Regions from separate parts of the Homo sapiens genome. Here regions 1, 2 and 4 are each linked to region 3. Evidence: fine-mapped expression QTL. A gene starts in region 3. Each other region holds a variant in brackets. All regions are shown on one strand. Distances are between the middles of the regions. Region 1 overlaps PUM2 (pumilio RNA binding family member 2). Region 2 holds the start of SDC1 (syndecan 1). Region 3 holds the start of PUM2 (pumilio RNA binding family member 2). Region 4 overlaps PUM2 (pumilio RNA binding family member 2).

Region 1 (5,148 bases), 100 kb before region 3:
ATGGCGCTTCAGGTCTATTCTCTTTAATCCTTACAATCTCAGCAGGTCACCATTTCCTTGACTTACACAAAGAAACTAAGGCTTAAAAGATGAAACCACTTACCTACTAGATATGAAGCTAGTGTTTGGCACCTGGGCAGTCTAATTCTAGAGCCCAAACTCTGAATCATTACTTTCTGATGCCCAAGAAAGTTTGAATCAATCTTTCTGTTGATCTTTCTGTTGTTGGGTTTTCCGGTAAAAACTGGAAAACCTGCTAGACAAATTCTAAAAGAGCACTGACATTTGAATACATTTTAATCCAGCCAATTGCTTTCCCTTAAACTACCAAATACAAGACTATTTCACCTGGTTTTAATTCTTGGTAAATATATTTTTTAAAAGTTCTATGGCACTTCCGCCTCCGCTGAGGTGGTGCCAGAGCCACAGTCATGAGTTGCTTCAAGTTTATCGGTAAAAGGAGCGTTTTCCCAACTCACTGGGTCGTTCTGATCGGTCCAGGGTGTTGCTCACCAAGGCCACAGGGCCCAGAACTTGAGCTCTCCGGCTTTGTAAGGGTTGAAAGGGCCACTCAGTGGAAGAGGGTGCAGGAAGGTTTCTGGGTGCTGGTAATGTTCTGGTTCTTGATCTAAATCCTGGATTCATGAGTATTTATTTGTGAAAATTAACAAGCCGTACAGTTATGATTTTTTTGTGCTCTTTCAAAAAAAAAAGTTCTGTGTATGGAACATAGCAGAAACTGGAGAAACTGCCTACAGGAGCTATCTTGGGCTGTCTTGTCCTATATTGGCTTAAGAGTTGGCTGGGCCTGGTGGCTCATGCCTGTAATCCCAGCACTTTGGGAGGCCGAGGCAGGTGGATTGCTTGAGCAGGAGTTTGAGATCAGCCTGGACGACATACAGACCCCATCTCTACAAAAAATACAAAAAGTAGCCAGGCATTGTAGCATGAGCCTGTGGTCCCAGCTACTTCGGAGGCTGAGATGGGAAACTTGCTTGAACCTGGGAGGTTGAGGCTGCAGTGAGCAGTGATGGCACCACTGCACTCCAGCCTAGGTGAGAGCCAGATCTTGTCAAAAAATAAAAATAAAAACAACAAACATACTCCTCAGCCACAAGGTTCTGTGGGAAAGTCAGGATAGGACCCTACAAGTAACAAAGGTCCAGTCCAGTCCTGGCCCCACTCCCCTCTGCAGCGCAGTGCTTAGAACAGCCTCCTAGGGGTGAGCCCTGAAGCCTCAGCACTCTTTTCCTGCTCAGCTCCCTGTTCATAGACACATTTTCTAATTTCTACCAGGCAATTCTACCAGGCATGTTAAGCTAGGTACTTTTAAGTGAGGTAGGGAAGGTGGACAATGAATATGGCTCCTTTAGGGGTTTCTTTGTCCTCTGCTGCTTTAAAATCTTCCAGAGAAAGTGTCATCGAGGGCATCTAGTCCCAGGTGAATTTAGGAAACTGCTTTCCTTAGGTTGGTAAGCCAGGGTGCGAAGATGTGGTATTTCCTTGTTAAGACCTTTTAAATTTCAATACAATGTGAGGTAGTATGTCAATAATCCAAGAGGGTTGCTCAGAAGAGACCCAAACCAAGACAAAATTAAATTTCAGGAAATACAATGTGTATGGTGACATTTCTTTTTCCCACTTAGCTTTATGCAGGTTTCCATTTTGGAGTCTATCAAATTGTTCTGGCTTTTTTTCTTTTTATAGCTGTAGAAAGAATGGGAAAAACAGAAATGGTATTAACAAGCGATTCATTAAGAATTAGGTTCCAGGCCGGGTGTGGTGGTTCACGCCAATAATCCCAGCACTTTCGGAGGCCACGGCGGGCAGATTACGAGGTCAGGAGCTCGAGACCAGCCTGGCCAACATGGTGAAACTCCATCTCTACTAAAAATACAAGTTATCAGCCGGGTGTGGTGGTGTGCACCTGTAGTCCCAGCCACTCGGGAGGCTGAGGCAGAAGAATCACTTGAAGCTGGGAGGTAGAGGTTGCAGTGAGCTGAGATGGCGCCATCACACTCCAGCCTGGGCGACAATGCGAGACTCTGTGTCAAAAAAAAAAAAAAAAAAAAAAAATTAGGTTCTTGGCCAGGCATAGTGGCTCATGCCTGTAATCCCAGCACTTTGGGAGGCCAAAGTAAAAAGACCACTTGAGGCCAGAAGTTCAAGACCAACCTGACCAACAAGGCAAGAATCCATCTCTTAAAAAGAAAAAAATAGGTTCTAACTATCTTTTTGTATATTCTCCACTGTTAAAACTAATGAGTTAAGTAGTATTATCCCTTGATACAGACTAAGGGCTCAAGGTTTAGAAAAGTTCACAAGGTGTGTAAATAAGGTAAACTTTAAATCCACATCTGAACTTAAATTGTTTACCTTTAGACAACACTGCCTCCTCGAGTTCATGTGAAAACGGGCTAAAAGTTTTATCCTATGAAGTATGCAGTTATAGGTCCTAAATACTAATCAAAGCATGGAATTAATACCATCAGAGGAATCAGTGGCTCCAGAACAGCACCCATGTGTTAAAAATGTTTGTTTTCTTTACGTCGGAGTAAACCTGAATGGGCAATCAATCTTAAGTTATAACTGAGGTACAGAGGGGTATTTTATCTAGAGAAAAACACAAGACCAGGTTTATTTCATACAATGTTATTCACACATTTTTCATTTTCTAATTTATACATAATATACAAAGA[A/G]GTGAAGTTAACATTATTTCATATGAACCAATAAGAGCCAGGACTTAGACAAACTGGTCCAGAAACAATCCCTATCAAAAGGAGACACTCAAGAGTAAAGCCTAGGTAGTTTTGCCCAATTGTTTTATTCTGAAATGTGATTTTCAGATTTTACCAAAATTTCATGCCAACTTACTAAAAGGTAAAAATTGGGGTGGGCACCCAAAATGGCAGACTGTAAAATTTCTACAAGAACAGGTACTTTTGTAGAGCAGGCCTGAAAGTATTGGGAAGATTGGGTTGTCAGCACTGGGACAAATGGGAATGAGTATCAGGACCCCAAGAAGAGGGTTTAGTTTCTCAATGTAGTATTCTCTACTTGTCATTTTCTAAAATTGCAGAGATAATGCCTGTGCCAACAGAGGGCAAGGATGAAGGAAGACTAGGAATTCAACTGTACAAAGACAGGAAAGCCATTACCAATCTCCAACATGACAGCTTTGATCCTGAAACCATGGGCTGATACTGAGAACAAAAGTTCGATACGGGCCGAAATACTCTGAGGTTGGTAAAGTAGGAAAAAGTGAGACAGCGGCTTTGTGTGGGTTTTAAAAAAATGAAACAAACACAAGGCGTTGCTGCAGTGACTGGGACATGCTGATGACCCAGAGTGACTATGAGAAGGAACGGTGACAAGTGTTTGGATTTAATGGTCTCACCAAGGAATGTTGGGTTAGAAAAGTAAAATAACTCAACACCAAACATGAAAAAGTATGCCTGGCATCCCCAAACTTTATGCCATTATTTTTAGGTTCATAATATGAACAACTAAGTGATAAAACCTTTAGATTCCATATTGTGCTCAGAAGATTGCGTTTCTTCTGCAGATCTCTAGTAAAAAAAGATCTCTTCCATATTCAGCTGACAGAATAGCATGTTCATTTTAGTTTTCAGCACTGAACATAAGTGGGTCAACATAAATGTTTATACAAAATACTGACTTCAACAAAATACAAAGCACTTTCTTTATCTTTCAGAAACTGAATATACACAGCAAGTTTTTTTCCAAAATATTTTCATAGGCAAAGGATTAAAAACGATTTTAATTATACACATATGGTCACAATTTTGCCTTAAAAAGATTGTTGGGAAATGTACATAAGGCCGCTTGTAAATGTACATCGTGTTACTGTTATGTCTTATGTCCAGAGGAAAAAATGTTATCATACAGATTTGCTCTTACTTGGGAGTAGGCTATTCAAAAATACAGTACTCTTCTGTACAAAGAAAAAAGTCACATCACATTTAATAAGATGAAAAAAGCATTGGCCTCCATGGTAACCAAATATCTCAGTCCAATACTTTCTATTATGCACAATACCCTGACTTCAATTGAAAGTGATCCAAATTCTAGCAGGTCCATATTAACAGTCAACAACTATGTTATAAAACAAAATGATCTCACAATAATAAAAAGAAAGCTGGTTCATACTTCTGAAACCATATAAAGATAAAAAATTTTTAAAAAATCACTCTCGATTTGGAGAAATAAATTTACATTATACAACACTATATTGCCAGGTCAAAGAGGGCAGGGACGTAAATGTACACTAAAATGCAAATGTATCCCAAAGAGATAAAACAAATTCCATTTACAGCATGAAGGTTTACAAATGTACACCTGTACAACCAAGGAAAGCATCACTACTAAATTAGCAAGGCTTTTATAATAAACATTGAAACAAGATTTCCTTTCAAAGTGTAAACTTACATCTATTACTACACACACAATGCATATATTTATAGAAAGCAAAAAGAGCTATCTGAATATGTAATCATGCTTAAATGCTGAGCTATCAAATTCACTTTTCAGTGGCCCCTTTTCATCTCTATCTGGTTCCTACTTTCTGCCTCTATGAAAAAGCAAAATAAAGCTCAACACTTCCTCAACATGTCTGTAATTCTATAAGCAAAACAAAATACAAATTTCCACTCTTTCTCATTGCAAACCAAACTGAAAAGTTAATAAGTGACTTAACTTTTCATTTAGTGCACTTAATTGGAAGTGTCACCATGATTTTGTATTTAACTCTTACAACAATTACATATGTAAGTATATACAATATTTCTGTACATTGCCAGAGACATTTTAGGGCAGTAATTGTATTAAAACCACATCTACTGTAAATAATGTTAGGTTCTTTTCATCTCAAACCACTTTATTCTTGTCTACTTACTCGTTATTTGCATGATAGTTTGTGAATTATCAAAATACAACTTAACTCTTTTTAAAATATTAATAATATTTATGCAGTTGATTGTTAATCTGTTATAAAAGGTTTCACGCAAAGGAAAAAAATAAGGACTATAATTCTATATACATCTCTATAAACCTGTTGTGCTATGGGGTTGTAGACCTACCAGACTGTGAGCCAGTTTATTAAAAGAATACTGTACTTTTTCCTTTAAA
Region 2 (5,122 bases), 130 kb before region 3:
ACAGAGAGAAAGAGAGAGAGAAACCTTTTTAGACAAACCTGTTTTAGTCTCTTGGGAGTGGTTTTGAGCAACCTCCTCTCCTAGCAGCCTCCCCTCACCCATTCAGTCACTCCTTGCTTCCCTGGTCCCCAGGGGGTTTCTGACCTGCTTCCCACTGGGGCCAGAGTGAACTTTCAGAGAGGGTCAGATCTCTGCCACTTGCAAATACCTTCTCCCATCTTAAAGCAAATCCCAGCTGCCTGATTTCTTTTAGGAAAGGGGTATCAGAGCTTTGGGAAGGCAGTGCATGCCCCCACCTTTAACCTAACATGGACATTCACTGTAAGAGGAAGAGGGCAGAACTGGGAAAGAGAAAACAAACTAATCTTTGTAAGATCAGAAAAAGCAAAAAGAACACCTAAGCTTCAAGCCAGAGTCTGACCCCAAAGCTCAGGTGGGGCTTTCAGGCTCAGCTCAAGCACCTCCTCCAGGAAGCCTTCCCTCCCTGCAGCTCCAGGGAGTCTCCCTCCTTTCCCCTTTTGAGACTCTCCTGCCTCCTGGGCCCTATGTCCAAGTTTCTGGGCAAGAAATAATGCCTCACACTGCAGCATCTGCCCCAGCCCACAGAAAACTCCAGGAAAGGCAGTTCACGGGGAAGCCCAAACTCCACCTGCCTCCCCAGCATTAACGGGTGCGGTGGGATCCCAGGGCTCTGGAATGTCTGCTTTACCCCAGGCAGGCAAGGGAACCAGCAGCCCTCCTAAATCCAGCCGGAAATAGGTGGAGGACCCAACTTCAGCCGCCCCTGCTGAGGCCCCATCATGTGCGAGAATGGGGCAGTGAGGTGATGCCCAGCGGTCCAGGGAGGTAAGGCACCCAGCTCCATTCTCTTCTCCAAACTCGGAGCGAAGACTCCAAGCACAGTCTCAGTTCCACAGAAACCACCACCCTAGAGAGCAGCTTCTTGGACCTGAAAGCCAGGAGTGCATGAGACCCAGCTCGGAAATCATGGCCCTCCCCGTGCTCCCAGATACCCCTCACAGTCCAGCCCATTCACAGTTCAATAGGCACAGGGACCTCTCCTGGACCGGAAAATGTCTGGAAGCACGAGTCACCTGGGAAGCAGGGAGGGCGCTTTACACATCGGTCTCAGAAACGACTGTCCCTACCTCATCTCCCATGAGACAGACTCTGTAAAGAAAAAAAAAACCAAAGCGCTCAATAACTGGCAGCTACTACACGAGGCAACGCTTACGGAGGGTCAGCGCTGCTGAGACTTGTCCAGATGCCACATTAGCAGTGGAGAACCCGAGTGCCCACCCCGCCCCCGCCCCTTCCCTGCCCACGTGCCTCCCTTTGCCAGAGCTGGGGAAGTCGAACTGTCCAGATGTAGTGGCGAGACACCGCCACTTCCGGAAGGGGAAGCGCCCCTGGCTCCGCACCTCCCCTCTGCATCCCTGGGGATGGCCGAGCCGGCCCGCAGGAGGGACCCCGGGACGCCAGCACCGGGCGCGGGGGCTGGGGAGGCGAACTCGGGCGGCAGACTCGGGCACCGGGCGGCCCGCGCTGACACCTGGCTGCGGCCCAGGTCCCAGCCCCCGTCAAGGCCGGCGTTACGGGGCTGTTCCCAGGAAAGGGTTACAGGGGCCGAGAACAAAGCGCCCCCATTGGGGAAGGCGGGCTAGCGGCCGGTGGCCGGGGCGGGAGAGCCACTTTCTGGGGACCCTCAGGCTGCTCTTTGTCGGCCACGTCCCTCTTTAGTGGAGCGTCAGCCCCGCTGAAGGTGGATGCTGCATCCCACCCAAAGGCCTCTTACAGCCCCGAGCTCCACATCTGCCCCTCTTTTCTCCCAGCTGCACTGGGCGGGCCAAGGGACCCGCCTTCCCTCCGCGCGGCTTCAGCACAAAGCCGAGCC[G/T]GGGAGCGGGAGGCCATTCCCGGGTCCCCTCGCGTGGAAGGCGCCTGCGCCTCGGCCGTGCCCGGCACGGGAACGCGCCCTCCGGGGCCAGCTCAACTTCAGCAGCCCAGAAGTTGGGCTCCTCCGGGTCTCCAGCGTTCCGAGGCCAACTTCCCGGAACCTCCCGCTGCCGGGCCGGCTCAGCTCACCTCGAGCCGCCCACGGCAAGCCCGAGGGCCCTGCAGACGCTCGCCCGCGCCCCCCACGCAGCCCTGGCCCGGCTCCCCGGGCCAACGCGGCCGCCTCCCGCTCCCGCGCCGGCCGCGCTGCGCCCAAACTTGCCCTGGCGCAAGGGGCGGGGCGCCCGGGCTCGGCGGCGCTGGGGCGCAAGCCCGCGGGTCTGGTTTGAATTAGGGTCTGCAGGGGGGGCGTTGTGGCCGCGGTCACTGCATCCCCCCGGGTCACCGACGGGGGCCCGGCCGCCGCGGTGGCCGGGGCGAGGAGGGTGGGAACGGGCGACCCCGGGCGCCGCTGTGGGCTGGCGGGCTCCGACAGATGTGGAGACGTTTTACATAATTGAGCGCGGGGCCCCGGCCCCCCACCCTCCCCAGCGCGGGACCGGTGCGGCACCCACCGACAGCGGAGGAAATTGGGGCTGGAGCCCTGGTCTCGGGGCTCACCGTCCCGGGACCCGCTGGGCTAGCGCGGGAAGAAGGGAAGTCTTCGCTCCCCCTCCCCCTCCACGTGCACCCGCCGGCATCCGCGGGTGACCAGTCCCGGCTTCCCGCCGCCTCCCCGCCTGGCCGCCGGCCGCACTCACCGGCAGGGCCGGCTGCAGGCTCAGCGCCAGCGCGCACAGCCAGAGCCAGAGCGCCGCGCGCCTCATGCTGCCCGGACCGGCGGCGGGAGAGCGGCAGGCTGCGCGGGTCGCGGCTGCGGGCCGGCTTCGCGGGTTCCGCTGCTCGATGCTCTCTTGGGCGCCTGCCCAGCGCGCCGCTGTCCCAGGCGAGGGCTGCAGGGTCCGCCGGCTGGAGTCCGCTCTCTACTGCCGGATTCCTCTCCGCTCGGCTCGGATTCGGCCCGCACCTCTCCCGCCGAGCTCCGCCTTATAATAAACCCACAGGCCCTTCCTTAGCCGTTGCAAAAACTGGCCCCCCACCCCCAGCTCCGCCAGGTCTCCCGGCCAGCCCCAGTCCACACCCCCCAGGACCCCGCCCCCCAGCCACCCCTCCCGGCCCCTTCGGAACGCCCCACCCCCGGCCCGCTCCTAAGGTTCTTGCCTGCTTGGCTCCCGCTCCTCCGGTGGCCGAACGTCGCTTTCGGGAGCTGTGGTCCCCGCAAGCCGCGGTTCCCGGCCTTTCAGCTCGGCTGCTCCCTGGGTGGTGGGGCCGAGGCGCACCCCCTTCTGCCCGGGCCCGGAGTGCGGAGGCGCAGCCCGGGAGAGGGGCTGAAGGGGGGCAGGCAGTCCTCGGGCGCGAGTGTGCAGCGCCCTCTGGGCGTGGACGCGGAGCGCGCTCCAGGTGCGCAGGACTCCTAGCTCTCTTGGGGAACGCTTTCTGGGGCAGGGCGGGGACCCGGGGGCGATGGGGCCTTCAACCGACGGGCAAACACACACAGACACACCCCGGCTGTCCTCCAGCTGCGATGCGGCTCGCTGCGCCCCGCCGGCCCAGATTCTCCCGTACGCTCGCGTTCTTCCTGCACTCCACAAAGTGCTGGAGACTTGGGGCCTTAGTTTAAACAGCTGCACCCGCACGGAAGGGCTGCAAGAAAAAGGGGGACGGGGGCGGAGTTCGCAGCGTTTTTCTGTGGAAGACAACGCCCTCTCTCTTCATCTGAGCTAAAAGGAAAAATAAGTAACTTCTTTGTTCCCCGGTGACCTCGGGCACGCGGATCTGAGGAGCACCGTGCAGTTGCTGCTCCTTCGAGATCCCCTGCGAGGCCCTGGGCCTCAGTTCAAAAAGCTGTGGAAGGCCTGCGGGTGTAGGGGAAACGGCCGAGAGAGCAAAGGGGAAGAACCGGACGGGCCCTGCCCACATCTGGCAGGCAGGAGAGATGGTGCCAAACGACCTTCGCACCTGGGCCCTGAGACCAAAGATGGCGTCGTCCTCCCCTGTCTTCCCTAGGCGGAAGGCAAGAACTTGGGTCGGCCTGAGCTGGGGACCAAGAAAATATCGGGAAGTGTCCAGTGTTCCTCTTTAAAAGAATTAAACCTTCCTGGGCCACGCAGGGACTGACCGTGGGACCCTGGACTCTCCTCCACCTTCCACCGTGGAGCAGGCTCTGGAGCCGAGCAGCCTCCTGCGTCCCCATCTCATCCCCCCACTCCTCCTCACAGCACTAAAAGATGATGGCCTGCTTGTACCCCTGCTCCTGAGCACCTGTTTGACCTCAAAGAGCTCTCGCTTTTGGGGTGTCCGTCTCCCCAAGTCTGTCTAGGGGGCAGGAAGACCTTCATCAGGGTTCTTGGGGGCCGATGTGGGCTCGCTGAGTGCCTGAGTGATGGATGGTCTCACAGCACGGCACCACGGAGGTCCAGCCGAGCTCGAGGAGTCCCTGTGGATTAAAAATGCCCTTTTCGAAGGTTCTACCTCTACCAGAGGGTGGCTCCACAGATCCCTTCAACCCAGTATGGTGGAAAAATAGGAATTTTGGAATCTTACCTTTCTCTACTGCTCACAACAGAGGAAACTGGGGTCAGGGAGGATTTGATGGAGTCTTTTCATTTTTTAAAAGTCACTCACGGCCAAGCGCGATGGCTCACGCCTGTAACCCCAGCACTTTGGGAGGCCGAGGCGGGCAGATCACCTGAGGTCAGGAGTTCTCGACCAGCCTGGCTAACACGGTGAATCCCCATCTCTACTAAAAATACAAAAATTAGCCGGATATGGTGGCAGGTGCCTATAATCCCAGCTACTCGGGAGGCTGAGGCAGGGAGAATCGCCTCGACCTCTCGGGTTCAAACAATTCTCCCGCCTCAGCCTCCTAAATAGCTGGGATTACAGTCGCACGCCACCACAGGCCGGCTAATTTTTTATTTATTTATTTATTTTGTATTTTTAGTAGAGACAAGGTTTCACCATATTGGTCAGGCTGGTCTTGAACTCCCAACCTCAGGTGATACACCCGTCTCGGCCTCCCAAAGCGCTGGGATTACAGGCGTGAGCCACCGTGCCTGGCCCTTATACTTGTCTTCTTGAGTGCATGTGTGAGGCTTTCTCTAGAAGTAGAGCTCTGGATTATAGGTAT
Region 3 (5,148 bases):
CACTGGACAACTACTGTCCTCTGGAAATGGGGAGTCTAACTTTGGTAGTCACATGAAAAAGCAGGGCAAATTAAGTGCTTTCTGCAGGGAGAAGACTCCCAGAGAGAAAGCGAGGAAGGGGCTCTGCCATATTTCATCAGCGTTCCCTCTTACAAACTCATCAAAGCGAAGTGAGGAGGCAGGACAAAACGAACAAGTCAGACTATTTTAATGCATTTCCTAAAAACAGCAAGGGTCTGGCACCGGGGCTCATGCTTTTAATACCAACATTTTGGGAGGCCAAGGCGGGAGAACTGCTTGAGCCCAGGAGTTTGAGACCAGCCTGGGCAACACAGCAAGACCTCACCTATATTAAAAATTAATAATAATAATAATAATAATAAAGAAAAAAAGCAAGAAATCTTAATATGCCACAGACCAATTTACCTGGCTATAAGTGTAATTTTTATCTTAATCACACCTGTTAGTAAAATGGTCTCAAGCTGTGATTGCAGCCATGTAGACAAAGCCATGTGAGACTCAAATATTCGGATATTTTAAATATCTGTAAATTTTAAGAATATGAAAAAATACAAGTATTTCCATATCCTGGAAACCCAACAAGGTATTTAAGTTAGGACGTATGTAGAACTTGAGTTTAGGAGACAGGAATCAACCTCCACTTAAAACTATGCAGATCATGTTAGGGTCTATAAAAAGGAGACAGCTTGGTCACTGAGAAAATTGGCTGTGGATTTCACACCTGGCCCAAATCTCTGGTCATAATTACTTTTGTTAACTAAGATAAGTACCTACTCCGGAAGGCAAATTATCTTTCCACACCAGAAAGGTTTATAAACAAGCCGGGTGTGGTGGCTCACGCCTGTAATCCCGGCACTCTGGGAGGGCGAGGCGGGAGGATCGCTTGAGATCGGAGTTCAGCCCAGGAAACACAGTGAGACCCTGTCTCTACAAAAAATGCAAAAATTAGCCGGGCGTGGTGGCGTGCGCCTGTACCCCCAGCTACAGTTACTCGGAAGGCTCAGGTGGAAGAACAGTTGCAGCCCGGGACGCGGAGGCTGCAGTGAGCCCAGATCTCACCACCTGCACTGCAGTCTGGGCGACAGAACCAGACCCTGTCTCAAACAAGAAAAAAAGATTCATAAACAAGTATGGAATGCTTGAGAGAAACAAAATCCAAGTATTATTTGGTAATTTATATACAGTATTTGTAATGCCTGAGAATTTATTCTAAAGTGACAGCTTTGTAAGAGCAAAGTAAATGTCAGTAATTAATTTAGGCTCTTTTAAAAAGTTGAAATCTTGCTAAATGCTGAAACACCTAAGAGAACTTTGGACTCAAATTAAGGAAAGCATGTGTTAAACACAGCTTAAATTGCTGGAAAATGCGTAAGTTACTGGCAATTATAACTCAAAATAGCTAGACCTGTAAACAAAATTTAAAAACTGGACTTAAATCCTCAAGAACCAGGTTTCTGAAATAAAATTTTATTTTTAAGATTATCGTAAACCTTTTCTGCATACAAAAACTGCCCTCATGCACACCAAGAAAATTCTACACAATGCAATTTCACCAAAAATCGGAATTTTAAAGAAATTCTTGCAGCACGGAAAATGCCATCATTTTTATTCATAATGATTGAGCAAATGAAGTAAATCATTGTTTAAAAGGAGGCTAGGAAGAGAAACAAGTTGAAAATACTCATTTTTGTTTTTTTTTTTTTATTTACAGGATTCCTTAAGTCATCTTCCAATACTCCAGGTCACATGGTGAAGAGTCACCTGTTAAACACGAAATCTAACCATTAAACAAGCTTTTAAAATCCTTCGGTAACTCCCTTTATTAAAATTGTTTTCTTGACATACAGTACCTTTACAGGTATTACATTTCTCTTCACCGTTTACAAGCATTTTTCTCATGTTTTCCTTCACCAAAACATCTGCCCCGTTTTCTCAACAAGTAAAAATCTCAAAGTACTAAGTCCTAACATGATGTCTTATTGCACCTAATATGCTGGCAATACATTCCTCTCTTCAAAAGTTTACGTATGTTAGAATAAAAAGCTAAGTTAAGTAGGTTTTCTCTGGCTGTGTTTTCAGAAACAACACTAACTTTTACACGTGTTTGGGCATGAAACTTTAAACATTTTCCCCAAAACCTGACCCAATTCAGATACAAAACTACTGCTCAAATAGTAGAAGCCGCTAATCTTGTCTTTGGTTTTAATTTACATATTTTTCTGAATATCGAAATCCGTTCCTATAACCTAAACAAGGCGAATCCAAGTCACTGCTTCATACCCACATCTGTCCACGGCAAGCTTTTCCCGGACACACTCGGGCCTTTGAAAATGCCCACACTTGTTTTCATAAACCCACTCCTTCCTCTTCACCCACTTGCAATCCGCATGCTTCTCTGGGGCCACCCGGCCTCTCCCCTCTTTCCGAACCCTAGGGCCGACAGCTCGGTCTCTAACCTCCAGCGCGCCGAATCGGAGGGAGAACCGGGTCGGCGCCCCACGCCCCCGAGGCGGCGGCCCCGCAGAGGGAAGGAAGCGGGAAAGCGGCCGGCGCGGCGCCCCCTCCCCCGCACGCGCACACCCCCTTCCGGCACCCCTCCCCCTGCATTGTGCGAGCGGGCCCCAGGCCGCACCGGCCCGGGCACTCAGCAGGCCCTATCCGCCCTCCCGCTGGCGATCGGCTCCCGCCGAGGCCGCCGCACAAAGCCTGGGGAGCCATCCTCGACGGCGCCAAAGGACCGGAGAAAGAGCGAACGCGGACTGACTTACAGGGCTGCTGCGGCCGCGCTGCCTCAGCCGGGGACACCGACCGTTGGGCACACGGCGGCGTCGCTCTTGGCGGTCCTCCCCCTCCTCCGCCTTCGGTGGCGGCAATGTCTTCTTTCTCCACCTACCACCCTCCCCCCCCACCCCACCTCCTCCTTCTCCTCCCCCTCCTCCTCCGAACCACCGAAGTACCGAGGGTGAGACACAGAGACTCACAACAACATGGCTGCCACCGCCGCCTGCCCTCCCCTCCCCCCCGCCCACCGGGCGCGCGCAGTGCACCCCGGGAGAAAGGGGAGGGGGAGCGCTCACCAAGGCGCGGCTCCTTTTAATGCCTTGCGTCCCTGCTCCCGCGCTGCCGCCGCGCGGGCCGGGGGCGCCCTGCGCGTGCGCACGTTCTCCGCGCTCTCACGTGTTTGGCCGCCTCTCCGGCGTGCCCTCCCCCGCCCTCACCTTGCGGGCTCGCGCTTCCCTCCTGGGCTCCGCCGCGGCGGGCTCGGAGAGCGCAGGCGTACTGTTGCCAAACGCTGTGTTCGACTGTCTTCCCGCGTGGGGCCTCGCCTTCTGAATCTTCTTACCCTCGGCTTCCTACCCGGTTGCTCACTGTTTTCCCCCAACTGGGTGTGCGGGTGTCTGCGCCCGCGCCGCCCACCGTGGGGTACTCCTGGCATTTCGCTTCCAGAGTGCTGGCGCCCACAAGAGCCGGACGTTAATTCAGGCCTTTAACTTTCACTCTGTACCTCCCCACAACCAGACGAGGGAGATGCATCTGGGGGTGGAAGATTGTACCCTGCGAGAGGGCTGTCACTCTTCTCGTGGTTGCACCCCAGGCAGGTGGAGCCAGCTCTCAGCAAATTGTCGGCCCCCAGTGCTTGGTCCCGGTGCACACAAAGGAAACTCAGGTCGTTCTCCAGCTGGGCCAGTGATTCTCACTCGTTGGCTGTTTCTTTTTCTCGCGTACTAAGCGCTCTCTCCTTCCCCGTTTACAGGCTAGTTGGAAACTCCAAATCTGCCTTGCTGTCCTGGACCCCCATGCAAAGCAGTGGTGATTCCAGGATTCTAACCTAACCGGCTCCAGGTCACACAGCTGTAACAGGCACCGTGTCCGATTTGTTCTTGATGGTTTGTTTGCACAGCTCCTGGCTCTCCTGACATGCTGCACTTCGTAAATATTCAGGGCCTCCCGTATAGTTTGCTTAATATATGTCTTCCCTAGGCGACTGTGAGCTCCACGAGGGCAAGGACCTTGTGTTTTGTTTCACACTGTGCCCGCAAGTGCCTGTTGAATACACATGGGCTCTTCGGTTTTTAACTATTACTGAAAAATGTCTGACATTGAAATCCATCCCAAGCCCCTACCTTAGGCTCATATTTCAGGCTTCTAGATATTTTCACTTGAATTTTCTTGTCACCAAGCATGTTAAAAACTGAAGTCACACCCATCCCCTACCCCCCACTCTTGTACTGTCTCTGTAATTGGCAGTGTCACCACCTATTCATTCCCCAAATTACACCTCTGAGAACCATCCTTGTCTCTTCCTCTTACCCCGACTCCAAATATAAATAACTTACCAAGCCTCGCAGATTTTTACTTCCCAAGTAATTCTGGAGACAGTCTTCCTCTGCCTCCTCACTAATGCTAGCCTTGCTTCCCAGGTCTGGATTTCTGTAGCTGGCTCTTAATCAGCTTTCCTGTCTCCAGTCTCACTCCCTCCAATCAGTTCTGCTCACTGCTATCTAAAATGCAAATCCAATTCCTGGCGCTCAGGCCTCTGCTTCAACCATCTCATTGCTCCCCATCACCCACGACAGCATTTCCCTAGTGTGCTGTGTTCAGTGTTAATAGATGTTCCTTTAAGAAATGTCTCACGATCAAGTAAGAATGGGAGATGCTGGGGTGTACACATTTTGCCTTCCTTCTCCTTTCCCCTCCGTTGAGCTGATAATAGCAGAAGAGTCTTTATATACAGTTGCTTAGTGTGGGTGAAACTAGATAAATCCATCACAGGCCCTCCCTTAGAATATGGAATTGGGACTAAGAGACCCCAACCTCGAAAGTCTCTTGGACCTGGGATCCCTTGGGCAGACTGGTTCCATCCTGTAAGACAGGGAACCTGTAGAGAAAGAGTGGAGTTGAGAGAGAAAAGGAGAGTGCTGACAATGTCTCTCTTTCACATGTTTCTGTGCCTGGCTGGCTGCCTCTACCCTTGGAGTCTGAGCCGCATTCCTGGATCCTTATGGTAAATTCTGCTTCTTTGCTTAAGCTAGATAAAGTGAATTTCTGTTACAACCAAGAGTCCTACTAAAAGCCACGTGTAAGCTATAGTTATTTGTTTGGTACTAACAACATGCAAGCACCAAA
Region 4 (5,148 bases), 89 kb before region 3:
ACCACGAATACGAGTAGCCAGGGCTAATTTTTGATCCAGACTCCCAAACTGACAGAAAAGATATAACATTAATAACAAGTGACCTTAATATTGCTTTGTTGAACTTGAGTAAGGCAGTGTTTGCAGTCTATTCATTCTATCAGTAACTATGTAGGGCAGGGGCTTTAAGGTAGAAGCTAATTAAGATAGACTGGGAAATGTTTCCAATAATAATTTTTTATTACTTCTTTGGGTTAAGTCTTACTAAAATTTCCTTGTTACTAATATGTTAACTACCTTTTAAAGAAACACTCTTTTAAAGTGAACATCTTTACAAAACCCTTCATCTTTTTTTTTTTTTTTTTTTTTTTTTGTTGAGACGGAGTCTCGCTCTGTCGCCCAGGCTGGACTGCGGACTGCAGTGGCACAATCTCGGCTCACTGCAAGCTCTGCTTCCCGGGTTCACGCCATTCTCCTGCCTCAGCCTCCCGAGTAGCTGGGACTACAGGCGCCCGCCACCGCGCCCGGCTAATTTTTTGTATTTTTAGTAGAGACGGGGTTTCACCTTGTTAGCCAGGATGGTCTCGATCTCCTGACCTCATGATCCACCCGCCTCGGCCTCCCAAAGTGCTGGGATTACAGGCGTGAGCCACCGCGCCCGGCCAAAACCCTTCATCTTTAATATATAACTTTCTTAGCCATACGTTGACCACCAAAACTCTTCACCCAGATAATCATCAAACTACATTCTGATATGATTGAGGAAAAAACTGTTAAAGTCATTAAGCTACAACACAGATGCTTATAAATTTAAAAATTGGCTAAACTGTAAAATAACACACATCTATAAATCCAAAGACTATAGTGTTATTCATTAACTACTTTACCAAAGATTGACTACCAATGCTTTATATTTTCAAATATGAATCAGGATTAATAGCAAATTTTCATTTAAAGTGGTTCATGTTAAAATTTTTTTTGTGACAAACTGCCATTTGAACCATTTTTAGCTAGGTGATTGAGTAGCATTAATTATATTCACACTGTTGTGCAACCACCATCACTATCACTATTTGTTTCCAAATCTTTTCCGTGGCCTCAAACACAAATGCTGTATCCATTAAATGGTAACTTTCTAAACCCTTCTTCCTCTAGGCCCAGTAACCCCTAATCTACTTTATGCCACTATTAGTTATTCTAGACATTTCATACTGGTAGATCACTATCAATGTTTGTCCTTTTGTGTGTGGCTTGTTTCACTTAAGTTAGTATTTTCAAGGTCCATCCATGTTGTAGTATGTATCAGAACGTCATTCCTTTTTATGGCTGAATAATATTCTATAATGTATACATATACCACTTGTATTTATCTACTCATCTGTTGACGGACACTTGGGCTGTTTCCGCCTTTTGGCTATCGTGAATAATGGTGCAATATATACTGGTGTTCAGGTTCCTGCTTTCAATTCATTTGCTTTCAATTGTACCCCTAGGAGTACAATTGCTGGATTGTGTGGTGATTCAATATTTAATTTTGAGAAACTGCCAAACTGTTTTCCATAGCAGCTACACCATTTTACATTTCCACCAGCAATTTATGAGGGCTCTAATTTCTCCATATCCTCATCCACATTTGTTATTTTCCGATTTTATGTTTTCCGATTACAGTCATCTTAGTAGGTATAAAATGGTATCTCATTGTGAGATTGATCTGCATTTCCCTGATTAGTAAGGATGTTGAGCATCTTTTCATGGCCTATGTGGCCTTTTGTATTATTTTACATAGAGAAATGTCTGTGCAAGTCCTTTGTCCATTTGTCATTTGGGTTGTCTTTTTGTTGTTGACTTTTTAGGAGTTCATTACAATATATCCTGGATAAAATGTTTACCGCATATATAATTTGTAAATATCTTATCCCTGGCTTATTATCTTTTTTTATATGAAAATGACTTTACCCAACTTTCAGAGCTTTTCTTAGCATCAAGTATACAACAGCTGGATGGGCGGATATACAAATATGCATGAATCCTTACCTCAAAAAACTTCTGTATAACATAGTTGCCAAAAACATCAGTCATTAATTGATAGGCTGCTTGCAGAATTTCATTAAATACCATCTGTCGCTCAGCTGGAGTAGCTCTCTCTAGTTTTTGCTGTATGAATCTACATAGGGAACATTTTTAATATGACAATATGTTTTTTAATACACTTGAGTATTACACCCTACCCTTCCACATATATGCACTGCAAGTTATTTCCATAAATATTACCATACTTTATATAGTAGACAGCTAACTTACAGCAAAAAGGACAAAAGTTATATAGCATTTCTTTATAACACCTTATCTAAAGATAGAGTGACAAAAAACCTGGATATAAAGATGTTTAATCTTTCTTAGGTTGGTTACATTATAATCAATAAGAAAATTACGTAAATTTTGCTGCTTATTCATTTATTTTTCATAATATACAATGTATTACTAAACATCTAACTTTTAGAACATAATAAAGGAAACCCTTAGAAGTAAAATTCATCCAACATGAATGAATTCCTAAGCAAGAAAGCCATTCTGGGTGACACAAGGCTCATTTGTTACTCTGAAGGAACTACCAACTACAGTCATGCACTGCTTAACCACATTTCAATTGACAACAAGCCACATATACAATGGTGGTCCCATAAGATTATAATGGAGATAAATTCCTATTGGGTAGGAACTGTCATAACATCATAGTGCAATACGTTACTCAGGTGTTCATGATGACATAAACCTACTGCACTGTCAGTTTATAAAAGTATAGTATGGCCGGGTGCAGTGGCTCACGCATGTAATCTCAGCACTCTGGGAGGCAGAGGTGGGTGGATCACCTGAGGTCAGGAGTTCGAGACCAGCCTGGCCAACATGGTGAAACCCTGTCTCTACCAAAAATATAAAAATTAGTTGGGCACGGTGGCAGACGCCTGTAAGCCCAGCTACTCAGGAGGCTGAGGCAGGAGAATCACTTGAACCCAGGAGGCGGAGGAGGTTGCAGTGAGCCGAGATCATGCCATTGCACTCCAGCCTAAGCGACAGAGTGAGACTCTGTCTCCAAAAAAAAAAAAAAAAAAAAAAAAAAAAGTGTAGTACATATAATTGTGTACGGTATCTGATAATAAACAACTGAGTTACTGGTTTGTGTATTTAGTATACTTTTTATTGTTATTTTAGAGTGTATTCCACTTGTT[T/TAA]AAAAAAAAAAAAAAAAGTAAAACACCCTCAGGTAGATTTCAGAAGGTATTCCAGAAAAAGCACTGTTATCATAGGAGAGGACAGCTCCATAGGTGTTGCTGCTAAAGATCTCCTAGTGGAAGAAGACATGGAGTTAGAACAAAGTGAAACTGATGATCTTTACACTGTATAGGCTAATGTGTGCATTTGTGTCTTAGTTCTTAACAAAAAGTTTAAAAAATCTGTAAACAGAAAAAGTCTCATAGAATAAGCATACAAAGGAAATATTTTCGTACAGCTGTACAATGTGTTTCTGTTCTAAGCTAAGTGTTATTACAAGTCAGTAAGTTAAAAAAAATTAAAAAGCTTAAATGTTACAGTAAGCTCAGCCTGGCAACACAGTGAGACCCTGTCTCTACAAAAAAATTTTAAGTAATTAGCCAGGTGTGATGGTGCGTGCCTGTAGTCCCAGCTATTCGGGATGCTTAGGTGGGAGGACTGCTTGAGCCCAGGAGGTTGAGGTTGCAGTGAGTGATGATCATGCTACTGTATTCCAGCCTGGATAACAGAGTAAGACCCTGTCTCAAAGTGGGGAGAAGTTACATTAAGGTTAATTTATTATTGAAGAAAAAAAGTTTTAAATAAATTCAGTGTAGTTGAAGTGTACAGTGTTTATAAAGTCTAGAGGAGTGTACAGTAATGTCCTATGCCTTCGCATATACTCACAACTCACTCACTCACCCGGAGCAACTTCCAGTCCTGCAAGCTCCATTCACATTAAGTCCCCTACACACGCATATGATTTTTTAATCTTTTATACTATAGTTTAACTGTATCTTTTCTATTGTTTATTATGCGTAGGTATACAAATACCATTGTTACAAATGCCTACAGTATTCAGTACAGTGACATGCTGTACAGATTTGCAGCCTAGGCGCAATATACAGAGTAGGTGTGTAGTAGGCTATGCCATCTAGGTTTGCATAGGTACACTCTTTAATGTTCACACAACAACGTATTTTCTAGAACGTATCCCCGTCATTAAGTGATGCATGACTGTATAGGGAGACAAAATTTGTACACCATCTAATCTAAAATGACTTAAAAACTTGAGGTTTACCTTAAAGCTATAAAGAGAGAAAATATCTTAAATTTATCAAATGTGTTACAATTCTATTTTCCTTTCTAAGCTATCTTTACAATGTTAATTCAGATGTATCTCTCATGTATTACATTCGTTTTAATGTAAAAAGGCACCAAATTTTCCTATAACAAATGTGAAATGTTTCAGTCTAAGCCAAGTCACACTGAATACCAACCTATAATGCAACACAAAGGCATTTAACATTGTTTGCTATATTTTTTAAACACACCATGAGGGTCACTTAAGCCCACAAATGTAATACAGAGCCGATGTAATCAAAATAATCCAATGGAGGGGGCCCTGCTATATTCTCATCATAACAATATTCTCACTGTAAAAAACTGGAAAACTATAAAAAATTAAAACCCGTATTTTTATAATTTATCCTAACATGAAAGAAAAAACATATAATCCATATTGAATTTTAGCTCTTAAAAGCTTCCAACTTTAATGCAGACTAAAGTCCAGAAAAATTTAAGCTTTTATAAGGCAGCAATTTTCAAAGCAAAAATGAAGTGAGAAATATCATAATCACCTACCTAGAACCATGCTGGTCTTGAGAAAACTCAACTATATGTCCAATCAAGTCTCTAAGCTGAAGGTTTGGGAAGCGGTTGTTTCTGAAATCTTCCAATAATCTACTGCGGCCAGAAGGCATAATATCAGACCTATTATACCGAAGCCGGGAAGGAGGAAAGAGCTGGCTGCTGGAGCTAAATAGACTGGAAGTGCTTGAAGCACTTCGATATTTTGCTTCTGCTCCAGGTGCTGCAGAGATATATCGACCACTACCATTTGTCAGTCCTCCTACAACAAAG

What was found. PIP is the estimated chance that this variant, and not a neighbour inherited with it, causes the effect.
Region 1: its variant is fine-mapped to the expression of PUM2 in whole blood (TOPMed, PIP 0.92).
Region 2: its variant is fine-mapped to the expression of PUM2 in whole blood (TOPMed, PIP above 0.99).
Region 4: its variant is fine-mapped to the expression of PUM2 in whole blood (INTERVAL, PIP above 0.99).

The regions. Positions count from the first base shown.
Region 1 is chr2:20,246,101-20,251,248 of GRCh38, forward strand. PUM2 (pumilio RNA binding family member 2) reads right to left here. Exons shown (of 21, transcript NM_015317.5): 21 at 2,637-5,148. It also overlaps the pseudogene RNU7-113P. Among named protein-coding and RNA genes, the nearest start is that of SDC1, 24 kb to the left of the region's middle. The variant A/G (reference allele first, on the strand shown) is at 2,700.
Region 2 is chr2:20,222,109-20,227,230 of GRCh38, forward strand. It overlaps SDC1 (syndecan 1), which reads right to left and starts at 3,022. Exons shown (of 5, transcript NM_002997.5): 1 at 2,694-3,022. The coding sequence starts at 2,759. RefSeq lists enhancers at 216-723, 724-1,230, 2,990-3,669, 3,670-4,349 and silencers at 1,389-1,588, 1,999-2,458, 2,479-2,538, 2,579-2,998, 3,059-3,438. The variant G/T (reference allele first, on the strand shown) is at 1,895.
Region 3 is chr2:20,347,808-20,352,955 of GRCh38, forward strand. It overlaps PUM2 (pumilio RNA binding family member 2), which reads right to left and starts at 3,037. Exons shown (of 21, transcript NM_015317.5): 1 at 2,790-3,037. RefSeq lists a silencer at 2,420-3,309 and enhancers at 2,505-3,134, 3,135-3,766, 3,470-3,559, 3,767-4,396.
Region 4 is chr2:20,258,324-20,263,471 of GRCh38, forward strand. PUM2 (pumilio RNA binding family member 2) reads right to left here. Exons shown (of 21, transcript NM_015317.5): 14 at 4,870-5,137; 15 at 2,014-2,143; 16 at 1-48. Among named protein-coding and RNA genes, the nearest start is that of SDC1, 36 kb to the left of the region's middle. The variant T/TAA (reference allele first, on the strand shown) is at 3,207.